Homo sapiens: one gene and its partners. The protein of the gene in region 1 interacts with the protein of each later gene in a pairwise test. Each region holds a gene or a part of one and is shown in the gene's direction. Other genes may lie near its edges.

Evidence for each region.
Region 2: the proteins of GIGYF1 (region 1) and ANKRD10 interact in binary tests that used the Homo sapiens proteins (3 or more experiments, as listed by UniProt).
Region 3: the proteins of GIGYF1 (region 1) and SCAF8 interact in binary tests that used the Homo sapiens proteins (3 or more experiments, as listed by UniProt).
Region 4: the proteins of GIGYF1 (region 1) and TSHZ2 interact in binary tests that used the Homo sapiens proteins (3 or more experiments, as listed by UniProt).
Region 5: the proteins of GIGYF1 (region 1) and NFKBID interact in binary tests that used the Homo sapiens proteins (3 or more experiments, as listed by UniProt).
Region 6: the proteins of GIGYF1 (region 1) and TROAP interact in binary tests that used the Homo sapiens proteins (3 or more experiments, as listed by UniProt).
Region 7: the proteins of GIGYF1 (region 1) and SMARCC2 interact in binary tests that used the Homo sapiens proteins (3 or more experiments, as listed by UniProt).

What each region holds. Positions count from the first base shown.
Region 1 is NC_000007.14:100,687,751-100,691,250, reverse strand, and holds part of GIGYF1 (GRB10-interacting GYF protein 1), read left to right. Parts: intron 1-1,695; 5' UTR 1,696-2,659; intron 2,660-2,735; 5' UTR 2,736-2,800; intron 2,801-2,943; 5' UTR 2,944-3,012; coding exon 3,013-3,047; intron 3,048-3,140; coding exon 3,141-3,270; intron 3,271-3,367; coding exon 3,368-3,463; intron 3,464-3,500. UniProt on the Homo sapiens protein: May act cooperatively with GRB10 to regulate tyrosine kinase receptor signaling. May increase IGF1 receptor phosphorylation under IGF1 stimulation as well as phosphorylation of IRS1 and SHC1.
Region 2 is NC_000013.11:110,891,070-110,894,569, reverse strand, and holds part of ANKRD10 (ankyrin repeat domain-containing protein 10), read left to right. Parts: intron 1-176; coding exon of another isoform or gene 177-222; exon of another isoform or gene 223-367; coding exon of another isoform or gene 368-461; exon of another isoform or gene 462-1,306; coding exon 1,307-1,542; exon of another isoform or gene 1,543-1,878; intron 1,879-3,500.
Region 3 is NC_000006.12:154,827,416-154,830,915, forward strand, and holds part of SCAF8 (SR-related and CTD-associated factor 8), read left to right. Parts: intron 1-3,500. UniProt on the Homo sapiens protein: Anti-terminator protein required to prevent early mRNA termination during transcription. Together with SCAF4, acts by suppressing the use of early, alternative poly(A) sites, thereby preventing the accumulation of non-functional truncated proteins.
Region 4 is NC_000020.11:52,975,358-52,978,857, forward strand, and holds part of TSHZ2 (teashirt homolog 2), read left to right. Parts: intron 1-3,500. UniProt on the Homo sapiens protein: Probable transcriptional regulator involved in developmental processes. May act as a transcriptional repressor.
Region 5 is NC_000019.10:35,897,741-35,901,757, reverse strand, and holds the start of NFKBID (NF-kappa-B inhibitor delta), read left to right. Parts: upstream 1-1,217; 5' UTR 1,218-1,255; coding exon 1,256-1,316; intron 1,317-2,014; exon of another isoform or gene 2,015-2,051; intron 2,052-2,935; coding exon 2,936-3,039; intron 3,040-3,225; coding exon 3,226-3,286; intron 3,287-3,901; coding exon 3,902-4,017. UniProt on the Homo sapiens protein: Regulates the expression of IL-2, IL-6, and other cytokines through regulation on NF-kappa-B activity. Functions in the regulation of inflammatory responses.
Region 6 is NC_000012.12:49,321,802-49,326,054, forward strand, and holds the start of TROAP (tastin), read left to right. Parts: upstream 1-1,453; 5' UTR 1,454-1,548; intron 1,549-1,802; 5' UTR 1,803-1,807; coding exon 1,808-1,951; intron 1,952-2,043; coding exon 2,044-2,236; intron 2,237-2,345; exon of another isoform or gene 2,346-2,353; coding exon of another isoform or gene 2,354-2,473; exon of another isoform or gene 2,474-2,587; intron 2,588-2,690; exon of another isoform or gene 2,691-2,775; intron 2,776-3,699; coding exon 3,700-3,857; intron 3,858-3,945; coding exon 3,946-4,083; intron 4,084-4,253. UniProt on the Homo sapiens protein: Could be involved with bystin and trophinin in a cell adhesion molecule complex that mediates an initial attachment of the blastocyst to uterine epithelial cells at the time of the embryo implantation.
Region 7 is NC_000012.12:56,175,984-56,179,483, reverse strand, and holds part of SMARCC2 (SWI/SNF complex subunit SMARCC2), read left to right. Parts: intron 1-427; coding exon 428-487; intron 488-636; coding exon 637-674; intron 675-949; coding exon 950-1,080; intron 1,081-1,390; coding exon 1,391-1,462; intron 1,463-3,500. UniProt on the Homo sapiens protein: Involved in transcriptional activation and repression of select genes by chromatin remodeling (alteration of DNA-nucleosome topology).

The sequences.
Region 1 (3,500 bases):
TGCACCCCCTGCCCAGTGGTGACAACCCAGAATGTCTCTAGACTTGGCCAAGAGCCCCCTGAGGAGCAGAGGTGCCCCCAGTCCAGAACCTGTTGGAGGGTGGGAGCCCCATGGTGGCCTGCAGGTGTGCCACTAGTTCCTTTAGTCCAAGGAAGGGGCCAGGCACCATCAGCTTCCGGCACCAGACCCTGCTGTGGGGGTGCCTAGAGAGTTAACCTCACTCTCCTGGTTTCTTCCCAAGAAGGCGGGTGGCATGGGCTTTTTCCTGCTCTGGGCCTGCTCTCTCCCCTGTCTTGGTGTCGCTGTCCTCAGTCTGCATGAACCATTCCCCCTTTGTGTGCCCCTTGCAGCCAAGACACAGCCAGGATGGGTGACTTGAGCCGGAGGCACCTAGGAGAGCTGCCCTTGCTGCGCCTGGCAGGGGGCAGTGTGAGGCCATCGCTTTAAATTTTTTTTTTTTTTTTTTTTTGAGACAGAGTCTTGCTCTGTTGCCCAGGCTGGAGTGCAGGGGCGCAATCTCAGCTCACTGCAACCTCCGCCTCCTGGGTTCAAGCGATTCTCCTGCCTCAGCCTCCCGAGTAGCTGGGATTAGAGGCACCTACCACCAGGACTGGCTAATTTTTGTATTTTTAGTAGAGACAGGGTTTTGCCACGTTGGCCAGGCTGGTCTCAAACTCCTGACCTCAGGTGATCTGGCTGCCTTGGCCTCCCAAAGTGCTGGGATTACAGGCATGAACCACCACGCCTGGCCACTTTTTCTTTTTTAAAAAATGTTTAGAATTGTTTCTGTAGAGTCGTGGTCTTGTTCTGTTACTCAGGCTGGTCTCGGACTCCTCTCTTCAAGCCTCCCACAGTGCTGGGATTATAGGCATAAGCCATTGTGCTGGCCAGGTGGTCCCTTTTCTGTTCTACTCTCTCCCACCCTCATGCCTCCAGGATGAGCTTCTGGCCTTCTAGAAGGAATGAACTGGAGGAGGCCCAAAATGGCCTCTCCTGAGGCTGATTTGAAGGAATGTGGGGTGTTTTTCTTGGAGTGGGGAAAACTTAGGTATGCGGTGGTTATCTCCAGATACCTTTTGTTCCCTAAAGCTTTTTTAAAAAAATGATTATTGTGGTAAAATATACAACAAAATTTGGAGACTTTAACTGTCTCTAATTGTGCCATTCTGTGTTACTAAGTACACTCACATTGGTGTGCGGCCATGACCACCAGCGGCCCCAGGATCCCCTCCTCAGTTGAGGCTCTGGACCCTTCAGCAACAGCTCCCTGTCCCCTCAGCCCCTGGTGGCTGCCCTTCTACCTTCCTCCCTCAATGAGTGACTGCTCTAGAGACCTCATGAAAGAGAAGTAAGGGGTAGCTCTCCTTTTTTGGCTGGTGTGTTTCTCTTAGCGTGATGTCCTCAAGGCTCATCCAGTCCCCAGATTGCTCTAGGTGGCCACCTGCAGTCAGTGACAGGCTGGTGGCTTTTCATGTCATGGAACACACCACCACTGGAGCATCCAGCCGAGGCAGAGGAAGGAGAGGTCCCAGGGGAGGCCAGCCTGGCCTTGGGTTGCCTCTGAGCCCGGTGTTTCCCCCTGGAGTGCCTGGACTCTGAGCAGGCCTCGGCTTGTCATGGGCTGCTGGCTCAGCTGGGGCTGATGGCCTTTCCTCCTCAGCACCCTGGTTGAACCCGCTTCCTCTTCTTTCCCAGACTGTGGCGTCCTGGAGTTGATGGGAGCTGCAGCACCAAGCCGGGCCAGCCTCCCTCCCAGCCAGTGACAACACCGCAGCACCTGGACCCCGCCCACCCGCTTGAGTCCTCTGCCTGGGGCCCCAGGGATGCGCCTCCTCCTGAAAGTCCCCTCCATCCTCCCTTAGAGGAACAGGCTGCCGCCGCGCCCCCATCAGCCTCCATTGCCCTGACCTTATTTCCACCTGATGGTGCCAGAGGCTGCTTCCCAGCTGGTATCCTGAGATCCTCGTTCCCTTGGTGGCTTGGTTGTTTAAGCCTCCATTATTGATTGGGGGCGGTGGTCTGGGTGTGATTCCTGTGGGGGAAACCAGCCCGAGGTGCCTTGGCTCAGGCTTGCCTGCCTGGAGTCCTTGTCGTGTACCCGTCTGTGGCCCTAGAGTCACCTCCTGCTCCTTTTCACTGGGTTTCTCCCCAGACCAAGCCCCTGGATTTGAGCTTCTGAGCAGCCAACTGATTTTTTTCATGAGGGAAAGAATTTTGCTCCTAGATTTATTTCTAATCCTTTTCTCCGTAACTGACCTTTTCTCTGTAAGCTATTTGTGGCTCTAGTGGGTTTTTGTTTGCTTGCTTGTTTTTGTTTTATCTTTGCCCTGAACGTCCATCCTGGCCTCGGCTGCCTCCCTCCCCGAGTTCTTCACTACACCTCCTGTCTCAGCCTCCCAGAGAGGGTGGCGAGGGTGCTGATGCCCAGAGACACCATCCGGCGAATGGACCTCTCCTGTCATGCGGGGCAGGGCAGGGCTGCCGGCAGAGCCATGTCCTGAACCCTCCCTCCTCCCCCCTGCTCTCCTTAAGGGTCTTTCCCAGATGTGAAGGTCCCTCCCAGGCTCTACTGAGGTCAGACCAATTCCCAGTGGCTTGGGTACCCTCGTTCACTCCAGCACCAGCCCCTGCCCTCCTTCTTCCCGGGCCAGGCTGCCAGGTGAGCCCCGGGCCAAGGGTGGTTGCCCTGCTGAGGCCGAAAGGACTCGAGCTTCCCATCTCCTCGCCTCCCCCAGGTCTTTCACCGTCTGGACTCATCTCTGGGTAACTCATGGTGTGAGTGGCCACGTGGCTGGCTCAGGTGAGTCCTTTTAGACCCCAGGTGACCCACCAGCTAGTCCGGGGCCCATTGTTGTGCCCACTAGGATGTCCCCCATGGTGTCCTCCCTGCGCTTTAAAGTTCTCCTTCGTGTGCTGTTCTTCATGGCCCCTGTTCCCCCACAGGTGTTTGGACAGTGAACGCCAGGTCCCCTCCTCCCCACCCCCGGCCTCTCAAACACGCCCAGCCCCACGATGGCAGCAGAGACACTCAACTTTGGGCCTGAGTGGTGAGTCACTTGTGCCTCGGCTGCCGTGGAGATTCGAGAAAGCACAGTCAGGCTGCCCTGACCTCTGTCTTCTTCTCTCTGTGTTGTGTCCAGGCTCAGGGCCCTGTCCGGGGGCGGCAGCGTGGCCTCCCCACCCCCGTCCCCTGCCATGCCCAAATACAAGCTGGCTGACTACCGTTATGGGCGAGAGGAAATGCTGGCTCTCTACGTCAAGGAGAACAAGGTGGGTGCGTGGGCGAGGGGGGTTGGCGGTGGTGGCCTCTGCCTGTGGAGGGGATCTGGCAGCATGTGGTGTCTTGGCTGTCCCAACCCACTGCCAGGTCCCGGAAGAGCTGCAGGACAAGGAGTTCGCCGCGGTGCTGCAGGACGAGCCACTGCAGCCCCTGGCTCTGGAGCCGCTGACTGAGGAGGAACAGGTGGGACCGGGCCAGGAGCTGAGGCTGCGGGAGCCTG
Region 2 (3,500 bases), on another chromosome or scaffold:
TAGTGTCCATGCACACTTCTCATTTCCAAGGTCAGAGCTCTATGATGTCTGCAAATAACGAATACAAGGCTATTGTCAGTCCTTATAAATAAGAAAATATTATTTGTCCCTAATTCTGTAGTTTTCACTCTCAAATGCGGGGTTTTTTTTTTTTTTTTTTTTTTTTGCATTAACAGTAACCCCAAGAAAGGCATCAGGGTTCTGGAGTGGTTGTTTGAGTGACACAGCACAAGGCCTTGATTTCATCATGCTTTTGCTGTGGATGTAGTGTAGCTTGCTGAACAGGTATGGAAGCTGTCTTTGCTGTTAAGTACTTCTCCCGTTTGTTTATCAACCTGCAGCTAACAGGATGTCTGCTTTTTTACAGGTTTATTTCACAGAGCAGTGTACATTCTTGTCTTCCAGGGGAACTTCAACATGGAGTTACTTTTGATCCCTCAGTTTTAATTCAGTGTCTAAAGGTTTACAAGTTCAACTTACTCTATTTTATTCAGCTCTTTCACTTACTCTGCCATCACTTCCTACTTGAATCTGAGTTTTAGCTACTGTAGAGGTCTCAGACCTTTCCTTTTTAGTACTATTAGCCAGGTAAAACTTTGGTTCTTGTGAGTGGTAGGGATGAGTTTTTAGGACAGTATTCAAAGCCTTTTTAAAGGAACCAACTACTCAAATGCTCTACAATGCCAAAAATACAATACTCCTGCAGGTTTTCCCAAGCAAGGCCAAAACAATCAAAATCTGACAGAAAAACACAGCTGTTCAGCTCTGGAATCTGATGATAGGCTACTTTTTAATGTCAGGACATCCTTCTAAACTTCCACTTACAGTGTCACATGTAAGCATGAAGGCTGGCTCGTTGGTGAGCCATTGCTTTGTTTTTAGGAAGACAGTTATGAATGCCATGGACAATCTCAGTACATGTTGTTTGTTATGATTTTATTCACGCTAAAGGAATGGGTATTAAAATTAAGTGCATATAATATAGAATTCAGTTTCAAGTCTGAAGTTAGCGTAAATTTAGATTCTTCAGACTAACATAAAACATGATTTTGAGAAGTTAAATAGGAAGATGCCTTTTTTAGAAGTTTAGCATATTTAGTTTATCTCCCAAATCTTGCTTAGAAATCAAATGTATATAAGAGAAGTTAGTTACAGAGCTAGATTGATTAACTACTTCTTTAATGAAGATTTGCTATGAATTTGTTTACTCTTTCATACCACCTTCAGATAGCTAGTCAGTTCAGCAGGAGCAGAGACCAGGTTAGCACGCGGATGGGGTGTAATTCAGTGTTTTTGTGTTGTACAGCCTGAGAAATGCCAGTGGCCTGACAGCAGCAGACATTGCACAAACCCAGGGTTTCCAAGAGTGTGCCCAGTTTCTCTTGAACCTCCAGAATTGTCATCTGAACCATTTCTATAACAATGGCATCTTAAATGGGGGTCATCAGAATGTATTTCCTAATCATATTAGTGTGGGAACAAATCGAAAGAGATGCTTGGAAGACTCAGAAGACTTTGGAGTAAAGAAAGCTAGAACTGAAGGTGAGACCGCTTTGCGGGTGGGAAGAGCACACTTATTTTTCCTTTCTGTAATATGTTTTCTTTTTATGGCTGAGCGCACCTTCGAGATGAGACCTTCACTTCAGGTGGTAATGCGCCTGGTGGATTGTGCGGTGACGGTGGAGATTTCTCCTGTACTGCCACTGCGAAGATGGGACTTAACAAAAGGGAATGTGAGGGAAATACTGATGGCCCAAGTGTAAATGTCTATGTGGAACTTTTTGAGCACCCATGTTTACCTGCCATGAATTAGATTTTTTAATTTGTTGTATCTGTTTGAAATATATCTATTAAAGAAAATCTGCCACTGTGCCTGAATTTTTTTTTTTTTTTAATTTGCTTCTTGTAAATGTTCCTGGGCTTATAAAAATTGCTGATGGTCTGGCAGTAAAACATTTTCACATTCGGGAAGGTGAATGTTTTCTGTACTATTTCTGTACTATGATTTGACCTCAGTGGTCTCTGTACCTCACATGTGTGTTGACTTATCACAGCAAGATCTGGTGTATAATTTGATCTTGAGGATTTAAGTCCCTAAGGTAAGTTATTTTCGTTGTAAGTATTCTCCCACCATTTTTTTTTTTTTTTTTTTTGCTCTGTCACCCAGGCTGGAGTGCAATGCTGTGATCTCGGCTCACTGCAACCTCCGGCTCCCAAGTTAAAGCAATTCTCCTGTCTCAGCCTCCCAAGTAGCTGGGATTACAGGTGCATGCTATCACACTGGGCTAATTTGTATTTTTAGTAGAGAAGGGGCTTCACCATGTTGGCCAGGCTGGTCTTGAACTCCTGGCCTCCAGTAAGCCACCTGCCTCGGCCTCCCAAAGTGCTGGGATTACAGGCATGAGCCACTGTGCCTAGCCGTTTTTTGGGTTTTTTGTTTTTTGTTTTTAAGGTAGGTTTGAGTTTGCAAATAAGCAGTCAGCCAGTCACTCTTGAAGTTGAAAACATCTCCCTTTCCTATAGGAAAATCATCTATATCTATATATAAGATGTCTTAGGCCAGTTGTCATGGCTCATACCTGTAATCCCAGCACTTTGGGAGGCTGAGGCAGGAGGATTACTTGAGCTCAGGAGTTCGAGACCAGCCTGGGCAACATAGTGAGACCTTGTCTCTATTTAAAAAAAAAAAAAAAAAAAAGTCTTAATAAGAAGGTAAATGTGATAGCTTGGCAGGCATATTTAGTGAACTTAGGGGGAGAGGTGGGAGTGTGAAGTAATGAAGCAGATTATGAGCTCAGATTTGCTGAGTATAAGCACAAAGTTTTGCCCGTTGGTTTAAAAAAATCAACCGTGCAAGTTACAGCATAAGGAAAACTGAGTGACTATCAGTTAATCACTTAAAAATCTAGAGATTTTGGTTAAATTTCATGAACCAACATCATCTTTTCTACCTTATTTAATGAGTGTGTCCAAGTGAAACATTTTTTCCCTATAAAGTTGATAAAATGTCAGTATTATGTACTTCACAACTATATCTTGTCACCATAAAAATTCCTGTGATAAGACTTTTTATAGTAATGTATGAACTTAACAGTTTTATCAAATTCAAGATTTTTATGAGTTAAGCATTTCTGGAAAGATGCTAAAATCATAAGCATGACATGAAGATCTGCATAAAATTCAAAATGGTCTTTTTTAATGGTGATGTATTCAGCATTGTCATTTATTTGTACCATGTTTTAATATATTTTTTCTAATGTAGTTTCAACGCCTTTTTAAGAGCATCCACTTTTTAAAAAAATCCTTTGTCATTTCCTTTAATTAAAGCCTGGTTAGTATTGTAGAGTGGCCTCATGCCCTCATGCACGAATTGTACATGTCTGTCCCTGTATGTCACTGTATAGTCTAAATGTCCTTGAAAAATGATTTATGCTTCATTTTCTCTTATTGCTGATAAATCTTAAATTCTGTTTAGTATTTTTAAAAAGAGATCACTTAAC
Region 3 (3,500 bases), on another chromosome or scaffold:
TGTCTTAAACTCTTATGATTGGTTTTATTTTAGTCAAAATTCAGAGAAGGTCCTCTCATCCTATTTGTGTGTTTTTTGTTTTGCTATGTGTATTAAATGTCTTAATGTTAGTGCAGTCCTGCCCCAGTCCTCCCTTCCTTTTCTTAATGCTTCATGACTTGTTGAAGAAACAGTTCATTCTGTATATAAGAGCTTAAATAATGGATTTGGTTTTTTGCTTCTTTGTGGTACTGAAATTACTGTCTTTGCATTTCCTGTAAAATGGAAGTTAGCACCAAAGGCTTGCTTAGATTCCGGTTCACCTGTTTTAGCAAGAATACTTGAGAAGCAAAATGCTGTAGGATTGGTATTATCTATCACATCAGAAGTCTTGCAGTGCCTTTTTGTCCTCCTGCCCCACACCTTTTTTGGGGCGGGGCGGGGGGGGGGGCGGTGTAAAACTTTATTTTTTAGAGCAGTTTTTTAGGTTCACAGCAAAATGGAGCCAAAAGTACAGAGGATTCCCATAAGCCCCCACCCACCACACTTGCACAGGCTCTCATTATCAACATCCTCCACCAGAGTGGTACGTATATTACAATTAGCCAGCCTATATTGACAAATCATTATCACCCAAAGTCCTTAGTTTGCATTTTGATTCACTCTTGGTGTTTTGTTCCCCTTTTAATGATGTTAAGATTGATCAGAACATTTAGTGGAACAGTAGAACCTGGTCATTAAAAACATTTCCTTTCATCCATTGATCATTGTTTCTTAGATCTACTTTTTATTAGTTGCAGAGTGGTGATCTTTCTAAATGTATAATTCCTTCCATGTTTCTTAACTTAAATGAAGAAAAAGTTTTCCTTAATCAGGTAATGGTACTTAGTTACCTTGAAGTGTGGTTGGTACAGCAAAGTCAGGGTAGATGCTATTTTTTTCTTTAATTGCCATTTCTCAGAGTCATGAGATCTATAGGTATTTCCAGTGATACCCAGTGACCAAAGAGAGATTTCTCATTTCTCTTCATCTTCTCCTCCCTTGTCCCTCTCTCCCTTTTTTTTTTCTCCTTCAGTTTCTTTAGTATTTATGGATTAATGGATTTTTACTTCTAGTCAGTTGCATTTTTCTTTTTTTGAAGTGTAGATTGTTTCATCTTTGGACGGTGGGAGACCTGTGTTGCCTCCCTGTCACATTAGTTTTGAGAGCTACTTAGCTTTTTGGCCCAGTATATCCCAGACAAATCTTGTGTTTTCCTCCCTCCAATCTGAGAATCAGCCATTTTTCCAGTTGGGGTATGGTATCTAGAGAACTCAGTCTGGGTACTAGATTCTCATTTTGCTCTTGGGTTTTCGTCGAGTCTAGGAATTTTTAGTGGACAAAACTAGAAAATGTGCATTTTGAACAGAAAAAAATGAATATGAAGTATTATTAAAGAAATTAGCTACTTTGATTTTTATATTTGCTTGTGTTCTCATATACTGAAAACAGTAACGTGATTGCTTTTCATTTTCATACAATATAGACATACACATAGTAGTTTGAAAGTAGTGTTACTGCCAACAAGGCTACCAGATGACACTAAGATTTTTCTGCCACTTTTTTTTTATCCCAAAGGTGTATAATCATAACTAGGGGTACATGTGCAGGTATCTATAAATATTTGTTTGTTACATGAGTAACCTATATAACAAACACAAGTTTACCTATATGACAAACCTGCACATGTACCCCTGAACATAAAAGTTTAATAAATAATGTATAATCAAATTATTGTGTATCAGGGTTACCTGAAATAAATCTTTTCTTTGTAGATGTGGTGCCAGTTTCATAAGTGATTTTTTTTTTTTTTTTACATTTTTATGGGATATGCACTCTAGCTTACTTGGTTTTGATATCTGTATTTTCTTTACTAGAATAGACATTTCAAAAGTAATGTAATGCAACAGTAAATATAGACATTTATTCATTTCCTTTTTTCTATCATTGGACGTTACAGAAATGCTAAATATACCCTTTTAATAATTTTTTCATTCTAGTGTACTCTTTATGTACAGTAATTCTCCAAGCTTCTGAAAAAACCTTTAGTAATTCAGGCAAGCCTACCTCAAAAATTAGACCTGAAGAGTGTATGTGATATATAAAGGTTTTAACTTTTGATTATCTAATTCATTTTCCTTGTATTCTTAAACTTTTTCTCCCTTTCAGTGTTTACATAGCTTTAAAATTTGGCCGGGCATGGTGGCTGATGCCTGTAATCTCAGTACTTTGGGAGGCTGAGGTGGGTGGATCACTCGAGGTCAGGAGTTTCAGACCAGCCTGGCCAACATGGTGAAACCCCGTCTCCACTAAAAATACAGAAATTAGCCAGGTGTGGTGGCGCACGCCTGTAATCCCAGCTACTCAGGAGGCTGAGGCAGGAGAATCACTTGAACCCAGGAGGTGGAGGTTGCAGTGAGCCGAGATCACGCTACTGCACTCTAGCCTGGCAACCGAGCGAGAGACTGTCTCAAAAAAAAGATAGGTTTAAAAGTCTTTCTTTTTGTTATTGTTGGTTCATTAGGAAGAATTGTTTATTCTTTCTGAAAATTAGACAAAGTGTTCAGAAGTCATTTCTGAATTCACTATTCACAGAGGCTTACCCTAGGGCCAACCTCCCAATTTTTTCCTAGTCCACTAATTTTGGAAAATCTGCAGTTAATTAATGGAAAAAGAGAAATAGTTGTGTGCCAGATGCTATCCAAATTGCCTTTGCTGTCTCATTTAATTCTCTTAATTCTTGTGCATGACCACAGGTGTTTTTATTTTTGTAGCTCTGTTGTATGCTAACAGTTTGTTCAGGTAATCTAGAGTTACATATGAAGATAAAACATTTCCTAAGTTCTCCAAGTATGATTTTACGGCATTCTAAGTGACATATTGGGCTAAAAATTTTAATTGTGTAATTATTTTGTATTCCTCTGGTTGTGTTTTTTAATATGTGTGACAAATGCACTTAGGGATATTTATACCCATTCTTTAAGATGGAAAGTTTATAGCTTCATATTTGTAGTCCACCTTATGTATTCTCAACTGATGAGTTTCTAACTTCATCTGACAAAAGGTAATGTTAAATGAATGTTAGGACCCTAGTACATTGTAATTGCAGGGGGATTGGGCAGATTTTCATACTCATACATTTCAGTCTGCACTAGTCATTTCTGTATGTTTAGACATTCACTTTATCTGGCATTCCTAGAAAATTATTAATTTTTTTGTTACTAGAATTTACTTTTTTTGAGTGCTGGTCCTAACATCTTTGGTGAAATATTTCTGAAAATTGTTAGTTTTCCCTATTTTTGGATAAAGCTTTCTAAATGTAATTTAGCCTATTCATGATGACTCCTTTTGTCATTTGAGCATTGGTTATTATATAATGTGCTTAGTAATACAGAGATGCCATTAAATTAAATACTCAGACTGCCAGAAAACTTAGCACATGAATTGACTCATTAAATCTGAAATATATTTTTCTCCTCTTT
Region 4 (3,500 bases), on another chromosome or scaffold:
TGCATTGCTCAGAATTGCTCGACTTTGATTATAATTATCCTACGATCGATAAGGATCCAGGTGTACGTAACATAACACTGTATCACATTATTTAAATCAGGTCCTTTTCATTAAGCTGTGTCTGTTGGTGCTGGCTAGTTTATTGGTGTGTGTGGGTGTGTGGGGGTGTGTGTGTGTGTGTGTTAGAAACTTGTAACTATAGTTTCAGTTTTCTGGCCTATTATATTCCTACTGTCTTTGTATGTTTGTTTTGTATGATTCTTATTATTTTCACCAGAAGCGGAAACCCTTTTTAAGCTGAAAAAGGATGATTCATTTCGTACACAGTGAGGGCCCTCTTACCTTATTTATTTGCTCACATATTAATAGAGGAGACAGTTTTTCATGCAGTGTTTCTTCTGTTCATCTAAGGTCATCAATGCCCTACTCTATTTCAGCTGAAGTGGTTATTCACAAGTAAAGTTAGCCACTTTGGGGTTCTGTAGTCAGTTAACATCCAGGGAAGGGGAGAAGGTGGGTTCTAAGATTATGGCCATACTAACTTTTATCACTGCTTAAAATTAAACACAATGCACAACTGTAAGTAATTACACCCAAGGACTGATGTTGAAAGCTTGATTTCTAGCTTGATTAATGAATAATGGGAGATAGAAAAAGCCTGTGAGTGGATCCGAGCTGAGGCTCTCCCGGAGCGCTCTTTTTCCCAAGAACTGTTCCAGGCAATTTGATTCCTTTGTATTATTAGTTATAAGTTCCATGTTTCAAGGAATCAATTACAGAACTTTCTACTAAAGCAGGTATCTAAACAGAATAAACAAGATGATATTGTAAGTGATGAGGAATTTTAGTCTTTATTTGTTATGTTCCTCCCCCTTCAGGGGGAAGGGATGTGAGGGGACAATTCTCTTTAAGGAAACAGCTAAATCAGAGTATTTCCCTCTGAAATGTCATTCTTCCTGGCTTTCTTAAGCTATGCTATTCCACCATACTATTACTTAGGGCAAGAAAAAAAAAGTTGAGAAAGCAGCCTACAGTACCCCAGGGGTTTGTGTTGTGTGTGCATGCTTGCTTCCTTGGATGTATATTTCACTCACCATTAAAATACATCCACTATTACCTGAAAATATTGCAGGATTCAGTACCAGCATTTTCCCCTTCTATGCATTTCAAGGGAGATAGAGAAAATGGCAGGAAAGTAAAACAGAACGGTGTTTTGATTTGTTTGCATTTTGCAGGATGCAGAGTGGTTAAAAATTTAAAATTGTAGACTTAGAATCTAACTCTTGATTTTCTACAGCCTATCTCAGCCTCTGTGCGCGCACATAAATAATACGTATTTTATTTCACCATACTGAACTGCTTTTATATTAATGACAGCCAATTGCAATAGAACACACAATCTTTTGTGAGCACATCTTGTGAATATATCTTTTATATATGTAAGTTATAGGATTCTGCCCCTGCCCACCCAAAGCAATTAGATGTTTCCCTCTTGCTGACTCTTAAAGGCTTTCTGATCACCCAGATCTGAAGAGTCTTGCAAGAAAGAACAGCTCCCTCAATTTATTTTGTTTATTTAATATGGAGATGAATAATGCAGATTTTGTTTTCATGAATGTCCTTGTGTGGCAGTAAACATTAGACTATTAGCAATCATTACTTAAAAGTTGCAATTTGCACCTTAATAACACAGGTTATTTACATGGGAAACATAGTCAACAGGGACAACTCTGAACACTGCAACAGAGCAGAAATGACCTCAGAGATCTCTTTTCCACCTCTTGATAGTGATGACTCTGAATTAACCGGTGAGGTCCCAGAAATCTCAACCAACAGGATGGAGGGAGGGGGCAGGCAGCTCAGGGCGAAGTTTACCTTTAATTTACTGTCAAGTGGGACAGCTTTCAAGAGACTAGGAATCGGGTAGATTTGGGACCCTTCCTCCCTCACTTTGTTTAAACATCCTTCAGAAAGACAAGTTCACATCTTGAATATTTAAATATCTCACGCGATGGATTCCTTCACTTGCCCAAAAGTATGTTTTTAACAAATGAATGGAAAAATACACACACACACACACACACACACACACACACACACACACACACACACGCATGGACACAATAAAGTCCAAAGGGTCTTAGCAGCACAAACTCTTTTGGCCATTCTTGTTACTTAAGGCAGATATCTGAAAAAGGAAGGATAGATTCCTTGAAATCGCTTGGTCCACACAACATTTTGGACGGAAATTGATTGCTTAAGTGGTCCTTTTCCCACCCCCGTCTTGATTTCCTTCTTCCACCTCTCACCTCACCCTTAAAGACTCAGACTGAATAGGACATCTCAAAAGCCCATTTGTTTTAGGCATTTATTGATTTCATTTTTAATCTGCCATATCAGGACACAATACGTTAACCCTAATCAGCAGATTACAAGTGACAGAGAGTTTAGTGGAAACTCTGTAAGGGAGCAGGGGCTCCGGGAAACTTCTTGACAATGAAAATCTTCTCTGAGGCTTAAGAGTTTGGATGCTGAAGATTACTTTTGGGGAGGGGAGAAACATTCCTCAGAAACAGTCTACATTTTTTTCTTCCACTTTACATTTCTTTATCTCCCAGTTGCCCATTCTACTGCTACACTTTGGGAATGCTTAACACCCAAGAAATACCTCCCAAGTATTTTTAGGAGGTCGGTCCCTGAAGCAGCTTGACTTTTGTCATAGTCTCCAACGGACGTTTATGCTTTCATTTCATCCCAGCTGATTTCTCATTCATTTGACGGAATTTCTCCAAAGGATAATACCTGAGTTGATCTGTTTCTTTTCCCAGGGCCTTGGGAATTGTGCTGTCCATTGAATGGGTTTTGGTCATGGGGGTGGGGGCACAGACTGAGCCTGGCATTTTTTAAAGCCATTGAAATGATGCCTCACTGTTCATCACTGCAGCTGAGCTTATCAAGTCAACCAAGAAGAAAACCTAGGCCCTGGTCACGTTTGTGCTATGCCTGTAATTAGCTGACACGAGGTAAATGTCCAAAGTCGACCTTCCCTTCCATCACTGTATTTATACTATCAATTTTATTTGGGAATGTCATGGTCTGGGAAGACTCAGCCACTATTTCGAAGGCAATGCCTGCTTCTACCTAGGTCCCCTTTAAAAAAACACAGAAATTGCCGAACAAATTCTATATTAAGACCAGGCATACACGGAGTATCATTTTCGTTTGATGCAAAGTCAGTTGGAAATACATTTAACTAACAGTTAAATAGTGTCTTGCATCGCTTCCCTGAAGCAGTGGTTTTTCATTACATATTTAATTACAATCAAACTGAACGACTTTTATTAAAAAAATCACAGTGGTATTAAAAGAAGCCTGGCGCACAAATAATTTTATTGCTTCACAAGTTGAGAACGCTTTTATATTTTTATTTCTTTGAGAGAAATTTATTTTAATTTTCTAATGTTGTGATAAATACAGACTATCTTTTACTGTAGTCTGTA
Region 5 (4,017 bases), on another chromosome or scaffold:
CTCTACAAAAATACAAAAATTACCCGGGCATGGTGTCAGGCTCCTGTAATCCCAGCTACTTGGGAGACTGAGGCAAGTGGAGGTTGCAGTGAGCCGAGATCTCACCACTTTGCCACTGCACTCCAGCCTGGGCGACAGAATGAGACCCTCTCTCTAACAATAAAAATGTAATAATAAAATAAAATAGAAAAGCAAGCAAGCAGGGGAGAAATAGGGCCAACATGGTCAGTGCTGTGAAAGGTCACCAAGTGAAACTGAGAGTGGCCTCCCACTGGAATGCCAGCTCCAGGGCTGGGAATTCCTGCCTGCTTAGTTCACAATACACAGCAAAATGCCTCCTCTGCTGCAATAAATTATTTTAAATGATGAATGAGTAAATGAAACCAGACCTCTAAAAAGGGTGATGTAGGGGAGAGGGAGAAATTGAGCCACACCCTATACCCTTACCCACAGACCCTTCCTCTGGGAGTCTAGACCCCCAGTCCTGCCTCCCTCTGGACCCAGTAATATTCTCCCTGCCCCCACCCCATCTCCATCCCCACTCCTACCCCTACCCCCATGGGCAGGACCCAGGAGACAAAGCCTCCAGCACCCCCTTAGACACAGACCCAGAAATCCAGGCCCCAGCCAGGCACCATGGCTCAAGCCTGTAATCCCAGCACTTTGGGAGGCCAAGGCAGGCGGGTCACCTGAGGCCAGGAGTTCGAGACCAGCCTGGCCAACACGGTGAAACCCCATCTCTCCTAAAAATACAAAAATTAGCCAGGCATGGTGTCCAGCACCTGTAGTGTCAGCTACTCGGGAGGCTGAGGCAGGAGAATCGCTTTAATTCAGGAGGCGGAGTTTGCAGAGATCGCACCATTGCACTCCAGCCTGGGCGACAGAGACTCCTTCTCAAAAACAACAACAAAAAAAAAAAAAAAAAAAAAAGAAAAGAAAAAAAAGAAAAAGAAAAGAAAAGAAATCCAGGCCCCCCGGTTTCTCCCTCCTCTTGGAGCCCGGTGCCCTAGGCTCCTTCAGAGCAAAGATCTGGACCCCAGCTCCCTCCTTCCCGGGGGGACTGAGTAGTCCGCCTCCCAAGTCCGCCGCGCCCATTCAGGGACTGCGTTCGCCGGAGCGCGACCCGGGGACTCCCAGGCCTGTGGGCGGGCCCTGCCCAGGACTGGGCGGTGCCATAACCCCTAGTTTAAAAACTCGCGGGTACCGGACCCAAGATCGGGGACCCGGCGGCGGCTCCGCGGGGGAAACAGCGAGGCTGGCGCAGCGCCGAGGCCGCGGCCCTGGGGGCCCGCAATCCACGCCACGGAATCCCCGAGGTAATGGGCGCGGGCAGGACGCGTTCGGCCCCCTAAGAGAGTGAGGGACTGAGGATCGAAAGACTCCCGAGGCCCTGAGGGACGGAGCTGAAGCGTCAGTCCTTTATCCCGAGAGTGAGGGCCCTAGGTGTTTGGAGGAGGAGGGGATCGTGGATCGTGACAGAGGGGCGGCTGGGATCCCAGACTTCTGGGTCCTGGGGGTGCAGGGGCCTGGGGATCCAGGATCGCAGGGCCCCGAGGGTGCAAGGGCTGGGAGGCTTGGGAGGCTGGATCTCTGGGTCCTTGGAGGTGCTAGGGGTTGCTGGCAACCGAGACTCCTACCCCTAGAAGCAGGGACTAGGCTGAGTGCGGGGGGGGGGGGGGGGGGCGTGGTTGCTTAAAATCGGCGTGGGTCTCGGTGGGGAAGGGTCCGGAGCCTGGCCTCAGGGTCTACGCTGGCGGTGACCCTGCCTCTGCCCCGCCCTGGGATTTCCGGATGGCCACCCGTGCGGGGCTGAGCAGGAATTCCCCTTGCGCGGGGATTCCACGAGCGCCACGATCGGCCGCGCGCCCCGCCTCGGAGCAGGACACCTGGGGCACAGGACTTGGGGGGAAGGGGAGGATGGAAGATTCCCTTGCGTGAGCGCCGTGGCGTCAGCGCGCCGCGTCGGGGCTGTTTCCGAGCCACCTCCTCCCGCCCCCGCCCCGCGCAATCCCCACTTAACCCTTCCTCCGCCGGAACCCAGGCTCGGAAGGGTGAGGGTTCTGTCTTTCTGAGTCGTGGGAAGGAGTTTGGGAACTGGGGCTCCCAGGTCCTAGAGAGGAAGGAACTGAGGGTCCAGATTCCTGGGGCCTGAAAAAGAGACTGTATGGATGGGCCTTTTTTTTTTTTTTTTTTTTTTTTTAATGGAGTCTCTCTCTGTCGCCCAGGCTGGAGTGCAGTAGCGCGATCTCCGCTTACTGCAACCTCAACCTCCGCCTCCCGGGTTCAAGTGTTTCCCCTGCCTCACCTGGGATATACAGCCGCCTGCCACCACGCCCGGCTAATTTTTATATTTTTAGTAGAGACGGGGTTTCACCATGTTGGCCACCTGACCTCAGGTGATCCGCCCCCCTTGGCCTCTCAAAGTGTTGGGATTACAGGCGTGAGCCACCGCTCCCGGCCCGGGGTGAGGCCTTTGACTTCTCGAGGAGGGGCGCTGGGGACTCCTGATTTCCGGGTCAGGTTCTAGGGAAAAAAATGTTGGGAACCTGGATGTGAGTCTAGGGAGTGACGCCTGGCGCCGGCCCCCCACCAACCCGCTGACTTCAAAACTTGGATATCTGGGGGTGGAATTTTTTTACGGAAGTGGGGTGGTTGCTGCAGAGGGGTGCCCTCCTCCCCCTTCCTCACTTTCCGCGACGGTGGTGGAAAGTTGGGTCAGAGGGAAAGTGCGGAGCAAAAGGAAGGAAACGGCGGAGGCGGATGCCCCACCCCAAATCTTCTAATGGCTTTGGAGGAGTCAGGCGGCATCTATGTGCCAGTTTTTCCGCGCGGGAGGGCGAGGAGGGTGCCCAAACCCACTCCCCGCGCGCCACCCCCGCGGCATTTAGGTGACTTAAGGACCCTTGATGACTTCCCCCTCTCCTCTCCCGCACAGTGAGCAGGGGTGAGCGCAGCCACTGCCCAACGCAAACCGTGAAGAAGCTTCTGGAAGAGCAGAGGCGCCGCCAGCAGCAGCAGCCCGACGCTGGCGGGGTGCAGGTGAGGCCAGGGAGCCACAGCTCTCCGGAGGCCCCGTGCTGTCCCGTAGGGACTCAGCGGCTTGCCGGGCCCTCGGGGCTGATGAGAGGGGTGGTCCTGACCGAAATGTCTTATAGATCCGAGACAGACCCGGAGGAATCTGCCAGATAAAGTCACCTGGGTTCCTTTTTGCTTTTGTCTCTACAGGGACAATTTCTCCCTCCCCCAGAGCAGCCCCTGACCCCATCTGTGAATGAGGCTGTGACTGGTAAGTTCTCTCAGCTCCCGGCCTCCCCATCCCCCTTCCCTAAGGGACTCAGACATCGCAGCTCTCAGAACTTTGGGACACCTGGGAGTCAGGCCCTCATTCTTCCCTTTTTTTTTTTTTTCTGAGACAGGATCTCACTCTGTTGCCCTGGCACTGGAGTGCAGTGGCGCTATCTGGCTCACTGCAGCCTCAACCTTCTGGGCTCAAGTGATCCTCCCGCCTCAGCCTCCCAAGTAGCTGGGACCACAGGCGATGCCACCTTGCTTGGCTAATTTTTTAAATTTTTGTAGAAACGGGGTCTGGCTATGTTGCCTAGGCTGGTAGGCCCTCATTCTTGCTGGAACTCAGTAGCAGTCTGATTTCCTAGGTTCTCTTGAGTCCAGTAGTCTATGCACATAGTCCTACGGAGCCCCAGGGCCCAGGCTCAGCCTTTTTAGTGCCCCAGGAGTCCAGGCCCTCAATTCCTCAGTGTCCCAGGAATCCAGGTCCCGGGAGCTTGGTGTCCCAGAAGTACTAACTCTCAGTACCTTGGGAGACGCCAGGCCCTCTAGCCCTGGATGTGACGTCCCCAACTCTGGTAACCAGACCTGCCCCTGCCCCTCCTCTTACACGCAGGCCACCCTCCCTTCCCAGCACACTCGGAGACTGTGGGTTCTGGACCTAGCAGCCTGGGCTTTCCAGACTGGGACCCCAACACGCATGCTGCCTACACTGACAGCCCCTACTCTTGC
Region 6 (4,253 bases), on another chromosome or scaffold:
GATCTTGTCTCTACAAAAAAACACAAAAATTAGCTGGTGGCAGGCACCTGTAGTCCCAGCTACTTGAGAGGCTGAGGTTCCCACCTCAGGAGGCCGAGGCTGCGGTGAGCTGAGATCGCACCACTGCACTCCAGCCTGGGCGACAGAGTGAGACCCTGTCCCAAAAATGCATAAATAGTAAAACTAGTGAGAGTGAATGAGAGATGGGATATGTAAAGGGAGTGGGAGGAGTTAAGGAGTAACTCCTCGGTTTCTGGCTTGTGTAAGAATAACTTCTGTGATTGGTGGGGAAAATCCACCAGAGTTCTGTTAAGTGTTGTTCATTTCCTGTCCCCCGTTAGGGGTTACCCCTTCCATCTTAAGCAGGATATTCTAGGATCTCTCAGTCTCACAGCCTTGCCCACCAATAACCAGCAGGTGAGCCCCCTCTCCCCAGACCTCTAGATCTGCAAAAGGCAACCTGGAGGCAAGGAAATCCCCAGCTGTGAGTAGCCATTCAATTCTGGTGCTGTGGTAACTGAGTTCAAAAACAATGAGTCTTGTTACCTACCCGTAAAATGAAAGACACCTCATCAGACACCTCACTGGATTGTGAGGCTCCAAGGAGCACACATATTGTTAGGCTCAGTTCGATTCCCTCCAGCCCTCTCCGCCCGTTTGAAGGCAGTTCCTTATCCCGGAGACAACGTACAGATGTTCTCTCTTTCCCTCTTTATTTTTTTTAAGACAGGGTCTCTGTTGCCCAGGCTGGAGTGCAGTGGCGCGACCACAGCTCACTACAGCCTCAACCTCCTGGGCTCAACACGATCCTCCTGCCTCAGCCTCCAGAGCGGCTGGGACTACAAGCGCGCACCACTGCACAGGGATTATTATTATTATTTTATTATTTTGTAGAGAAACGGGTGGGAGTGGTCTCGCTATGTTGCCCAGGCTGGTCTCAAACTCAGCTCAAGAGATCCTCCCGCCTCGGCGTCCCAAAGTGTTGGGATTACAGGCGCCTGCCACCGCGCCCGGACGCAGATATTTTCTATGGGCATCTGGAATGGCGTCCCCAAAGCTTGGCGCCGTGCTATGGTCAAGCCGGGTCGGGGGCTCGGGCCAGCCTTCAACACCGTTGGCAGCAATCGGAACGATCAACTGTACCCTCAGTACCGCGACCTCGCCCGGTCCTGCCAATGGCCGGCCCCTAGCCGGTCCTGAGGCCTCGCGAGAGCTCCCGTGGCTACGCCTTCCCCGGCCTCGGAACGGCCCCATCCTTCCTCTTTCCCCGCCTCCCAGCGGCGCTCCACTCTCGGATTGGCTGATTGATCCGAGTCAGTTTTTTTCCTCGCCAGAAAGCGGTTCGACAATTGGTCCTTCTTTTGGCCCCTCCTGCGATGCCCGCGGATTGGACGGCTGAGTCTGGCTACGCGGGCCTCCGCGGGAGCGCGACCGGGCCAATCAAGAGCTTGGCGTATTTTACAAACTGAGAAAGTAGCTCCAGCAGCACCCGAGAGGGTCAGGAGAAAAGCGGAGGAAGCTGGGTAGGCCCTGAGGGGCCTCGGTAAGGTAAGGCACGGGGGTCTTGAAGGGAACGAAGGCTGCTGGGTTCATAGGGAGGAGGGCAGTTTGGGGCCCGAGGGCGAAAGAGTAGGCTCGGGGTGTCTGGAGATAGCACCCATAAGAGCGGTCTTGCAGGCGCCGGGGGCTTGTGGGCGCGTGGATTAGGGCGGAGGTATCAGGGATGGCAGGACAGGTGCCCCGAGAACTGGTTGATCTTTGATCTTAGATTCTGCCTGCCTTCTTCCCCGTCTCAATTGTAGCCATCATGACCACCCGGCAAGCCACGAAGGATCCCCTCCTCCGGGGTGTATCTCCTACCCCTAGCAAGATTCCGGTACGCTCTCAGAAACGCACGCCTTTCCCCACTGTTACATCGTGCGCCGTGGACCAGGAGAACCAAGATCCAAGGGTAAGAGGGGCCTAATGGGGGAAGACAGTAGTCACACCAGTAATGCACCCCAACACTAAACCTCACCTTTTTGTCCCCGCTCCCTCCCCTAGAGATGGGTGCAGAAACCACCGCTCAATATTCAACGCCCCCTCGTTGATTCAGCAGGCCCCAGGCCGAAAGCCAGGCACCAGGCAGAGACATCACAAAGATTGGTGGGGATCAGTCAGCCTCGGAACCCCTTGGAAGAGCTCAGGCCTAGCCCTAGGGGTCAAAATGTGGGGCCTGGGCCCCCTGCCCAGACAGGTACCTGTTGGAGCCATGGTAACACGGCCTCCATGGCTGAGTAGGGGACTAGGAAGGGTAAAAGTGGGGTTTTGGGGTTTTGCACTCACTCCTGCTGTCTCCTACTTACTGTGATAGTCCTGGTCCCAGCTCCTGGAAAGCTCTTTGCTCTTAGAAGATCTCCCTTTCCTCCAGCAAAATGTCATCTCGCCAGGTGCCATGGCTTGTACCTGTAATCACAGCTACTCAGGAGGCTGAAGCAGGAGGATCACTGGAGGCCAGGAGTTGGAGACCAGCCTGGATGACAGAGGGAGATCCCATCTCTTTAAAAAATAAATAAATAAATAAATAATAAATATCACTTCTTCTGAAGCCTTTTCCAGTTCCCCATGTCACAATCAGTTGCTCTGTGTTCTCCTAATACTTTGCAGCACTTCTTTTATAACATGTATATACCTTGGCTTGAGTCTGTTACCTGTCTATAGTTTGATGATAGCCTCTTGAGGATAGGGGCTTTGTCTTATTCTTATGGGACCCCAGTGCTTAGAATAGTGTCTTATGTAACATTCTATGAACATTTGGTGACCAGGTGTGGTGGCTCACGCCTGTAATTCCAACACTCCTCCGAGGCAGGAGGATCATTTGAGCTCAGGAGTTTGAGACCAGCCTAGGCAACATAGTGAGACCCCATCTCTTTTTCTCTTTTTTTTTTTCTTTTCTTTTTTTTTTGTGGAGACAGAGTCTTACTCTATCCCTCAGGCTAGAGTACAGTGGCATGATCTCGGCTCACTGCAACATCCACCTCCCAGGTTCAAGCGATTCTCATGCCTCACCCCGAGTACCTGGGATTACCAGCACCTGCCACCACACCCAGCTAATTTTTGTTTTCTTTCTTTTTTTTTTTTTTTTTTTTGAGACAGAGTCTCACTCTGTCACTAAGCTGGAGTGCAGTGGCACGATCTTGGCTCATTGCAACCTCCACCTCCCAGGTTCAAGTGATTCTCCAGCCTCAGCCTCCTGAGTAGCTGGTACTACAGGCGCGCGCCACCAGGTCCAGCTAATTTTTTTTTGTTTTTGTTTTTTGTAGAGATGGGGTTTTACCATGTTGGCCAGGCTGGTCTCAAACTCCTGACCTCAGGTGATCCACCTGCCTCAGCCTCCCAAAGTGCTGGGATTACAGGAGTGAGCTACCGCACCCAGCCAATTTTTGTATTTTTTTAGTGGAGACAGGGTTTTGCTATGTTGGCCGGGTTGGTCTCAAACTCCTGACCACAGGTGATCCACCCGCCTCGGCCTCCCAAAGTGCTGGGATTACAGGCATGAGCCACTGCACCCAGCCATCTATTTCTTAAAAAAAAAAAAAAAAATAAGCCAAATTCAATTGAATGAGTCTCTTGCTCACCTTGTACCTCAAAGTTCCTATGCTAGGGGCCCTATCCCCCTCAGCCTTCCCCCTTCCTTTTCCTTCTCCTCTTTCCTTGCAGAGGCTCCAGGGACCATAGAGTTTGTGGCTGACCCTGCAGCCCTGGCCACCATCCTGTCAGGTGAGGGTGTGAAGAGCTGTCACCTGGGGCGCCAGCCTAGTCTGGCTAAAAGAGTACTGGTTCGAGGAAGTCAGGGAGGCACCACCCAGAGGGTCCAGGTAATGAAACAGGATGTGAGGAGACCAGGCTAGGGGGCACTGAGGGGGGCATCCTGAGCAGTGCTGACAGCCTCTGTTGGTGTCCCAGGGTGTTCGGGCCTCTGCATATTTGGCCCCCAGAACCCCCACCCACCGACTGGACCCTGCCAGGGCTTCCTGCTTCTCTAGGCTGGAGGGACCAGGACCTCGAGGCCGGACATTGTGCCCCCAGAGGCTACAGGCTCTGGTGAGTGCCCTTGAGGGGCTGATAGTCGGTGCTTCTGGGAGCTCCTTCCAGGGACAAAGCTGGGCTCTGGGAGAAGAGGTACCTCATGATGAGGCAAGGGATCCTACTGGGGGAGATGGGGTTGGTGGTGAGGCCTGAGGGTTTGGGGTCCACCTCTGATTCCGTTTTCA
Region 7 (3,500 bases), on another chromosome or scaffold:
TCATCAATCAGCTCTCTCTCTTCTCTATGTTTGCTCCTGAGCATATGTATATGAATTCAGTTGAGGAAAGTATCCTCTGCTTTCAAAAATGTTTAACACTTAACCATTCTTCCACAGAGTGATTTGGTCAGATTCAGTATCAGACCATTAAAAGCTTACAGATACATAGATGGAGATAAAGGCCTGTCAAAGACAAGAATCATTTATGAATGTACATAGAGAAATAAGTTAAATTAATTTTTGGTTGGAGAAGTGGGGAAAGTAGCAAGAAGTTTGAAGCCCTAGAATAATTGTGACTGGAGAGAATTACTATATTTTGCAATCAGGTGGAGACAATTTTTGGAGAAAGTAGGATGTCTGGAACTATTAAATTGAAGGCTTGAATTAGGCAAAATCTGTCTGATAAAATGACTCTCTGTTTTCGCAGTCAACACAAAGAAAGACTCAGAGTCGGCCCCAGTCAAAGGCGGCACCATGACCGACCTGGGTAAGACAGGAGCCTCTTGGGCACGGCAGTCAGAGCCAAGGGAAGGGGAGGGCTCAGCTGCCCCCTTTTCGCTAGCCTGATGGGCTTTTGGTAGGGCTTTCTTGCCCCTCAGGAGGCTCCAGCCTTACATCTTGGTTTTTCTCTTTCAGATGAACAGGAAGATGAAAGCATGGAGACGACGGGCAAGGTGGAGCCAGTTTAGAGAGGCCCTACCTCTCTATGTGATTCTGATTTGTGATTATAAAGTTCATTCTGCCCAAACTTTTCACTGCCCAGACTTTACCCACTGTAGACTAATTCCAGCTTTGTTCAAAACTCTGACCCTTTCAGAGTCCTGGGGCCCATGACTGCTCAGTCCCATCACCCATCTTTAGTGTCCACATTCCTGGGGTGTGGGAGAAGCAGAGGGTTGCTAGGGAGGAAGCAGGAATGCTGAGTGTCCAGCAGCCTCCATACTCGTAGGATGAGGATGAGAACAGTACGGGGAACAAGGGAGAGCAGACCAAGAATCCAGACCTGCATGAGGACAATGTGACTGAACAGACCCACCACATCATCATTCCCAGCTACGCTGCCTGGTTTGACTACAATAGGTATGGTTGTCCCCAACTTCTCACTGAGTCCTTATTTCCCTGCCTCCAGGGGTCAACAGGCTGTTCTTCTCCCTGCCTCCTCCAAATAAGTTATTTTTTCCTCACCCAAATAGACCAGAGTACACTTTAGTTTTAGGGGAGCTCCTTGTGTCCTTTTGAGTCTTACAGCCTGTGGGATGTTCTCCCCAAGCTTCTAACTTCAGCAATTTCGAGCTCTTTTCCTTCTTTGCCTTCTAGGCTTTTCCTCCCTTTGGGGCCCCCATCCCTTCACCAATGCCTTCTTCTGAAACCATTCTGGCTTTTCTTGCAGTGTTCATGCCATTGAGCGGAGGGCTCTCCCCGAGTTCTTCAACGGCAAGAACAAGTCCAAGACTCCAGAGATGTAAGGAAATCTCATCTCATGATTCTCCTTCTCCCTCCTGTCCCCACATTCACCCTTCCTGATCCAGTAACATTCAGTTTAGCAAACATTTCTTGAGCATCTTCCATGAGCCAGGCACTATGCTAGGCTTACAAAGGCACAATATCTGCCTTTAGGCAGCCCTGGCCTAGCATGTAGACACATGTTCTTTAGGATTTGCCCAAGGGTGATATTAAGCATGTTCTATACATAACAAGTACCTACTCCAGTGCCTCAACTTCTTTTTAACAGGGTATAGAGCCTTTAAATCCATATTACTGATATCGTCTATACTGCAGATATTCCTAGCACAAAAGTTTTGATTAAAGTGTAAATTACTATTACCAGGCTGGTTCCTGAGAGTAGGTTTTAATAGAAAAACAAGAGAAGGAACTAATAGAAGACCAGTTTATATAAATTAAGGGATGGAGAGGGCTCACTGGGAAAGAAGTGTAGGAGCCACGGTGGCTCACGACTGTAAATCATCCCAGCTACTTGGGACACTGAGACAGAAGGATTCCTTGAGGCCAGGAGTTCAAGAATAGCATGAGCAACATAGCAAGACTCCCATCTCTAAAGAAGTGAAAAAAAATTAGCTGGGCCTGGTGGGGCATACCTGTGGTCCCAGCTACTTCGGAAGCTGAAATGGGAAGATTGCTTGAGCCCAGGAGTTTGAGGCTGCAGTGAGCCATGATCACACCACTGCTCTCCAGCCTGGCTGACACGGCAAGACCCCGTATCTAAAAAAATTAATGAACAAGGCTGGGTGTGGTGGCTCACGCCTGTAATCCCAGCACTTTGGGAGGCCGAGGCGGGCGGATCACAAGGTCAGGAGATCGCGACCATGCTGGCTAACATGATGAAACCCCATCTCTACTAAAAAGACCAGGCGCGGTGGCTCATGCCTGTAATCCCAGCAATTCGGGAGGCTGAGGCGGGCGGATCACCCGAGGTCAGGAGTTCGAGCTCAGCCTGACCAACATGGAGAAACCCCGTCTCTACTAAAAATACAAAACTAGCTGGGCGTGGTGGCACGTGCCTGTAATCCCAACTACTAGGGAGGCTGAGGCAGGAGAATCGCTTGAACCCGGGAGGCGGAGGTTGCAGTGAGCCGAGATTACGCCATTGCACTCCAGCCTGGGCAACAAGAGTGAAACTCCGTCTCAAAAAAAACAAAAAAACAAAAACAAAAAAAATTAGCCGGGCGTGGTGGCATGCATCTGTAGTCCCAGCTAGTCTGGAGGCTGAGGCAGGAGAATCACTTGAACCTGAGAGGCAGAGGTTGCAGTGAGCCGAGATCACGCCACTGCACTCCAGCCGGGGTGACAGAGCGAGACTCCGTCTCAAAAAAAAAAAAAATTAGCTGGGCGTGGTGGCAGGCGCCTGTAGTTCCAGCTACTTGGGAGGCTGAGGCAGGAGAATGGCATGAACCTGGGAGACAGAGCTTGCAGTGAGCCGAGATTGCGCCACTGCACTCCAGCCTGGGCGACAGAGCAAGACTCCGTCTCAAGAAAAAAAAAAAGATTTTGCCTCAGGCCAAACCTGCTTGGCTTTGGATAAGACATGGCAGTCTTCTTTGGTTAGGAATACTTCAAGATAACCACATTGATGAGGTGGGTGAGACTGAGAACTGAACAAGTTTTCTTCCCAGCTATTCCACAGCTTCCCCTCTCTGGGGGTCCCTCCGTGTTTTTTCTTCATAGCTTGCTATGGTTCTCTCTTCCTTCTCTTCCTGGAGAAAGCAGTATGTGTGAAAAGAAAGTAGTGATCAGGTGAAATGAATTCAACATGACATGCAGGCAGGGTTGGAGTAGGAACTGAACTCTTGGTATAAAATAGTAAATGATGGCTGGGCATGGTGGCTCACGCCTGTAATTCCAGCACTTTGGGAGGCCCAGGCGGGCAGATCACGAGGTCAGGAGTTCGAGACCAGCCAGGCCAACATGGTGAAACCCCGTCTCTACTAAAAATACAAAAATTAGCTGGGTGTGGAGGCACGCACCTGTAATCCCAGCTACTT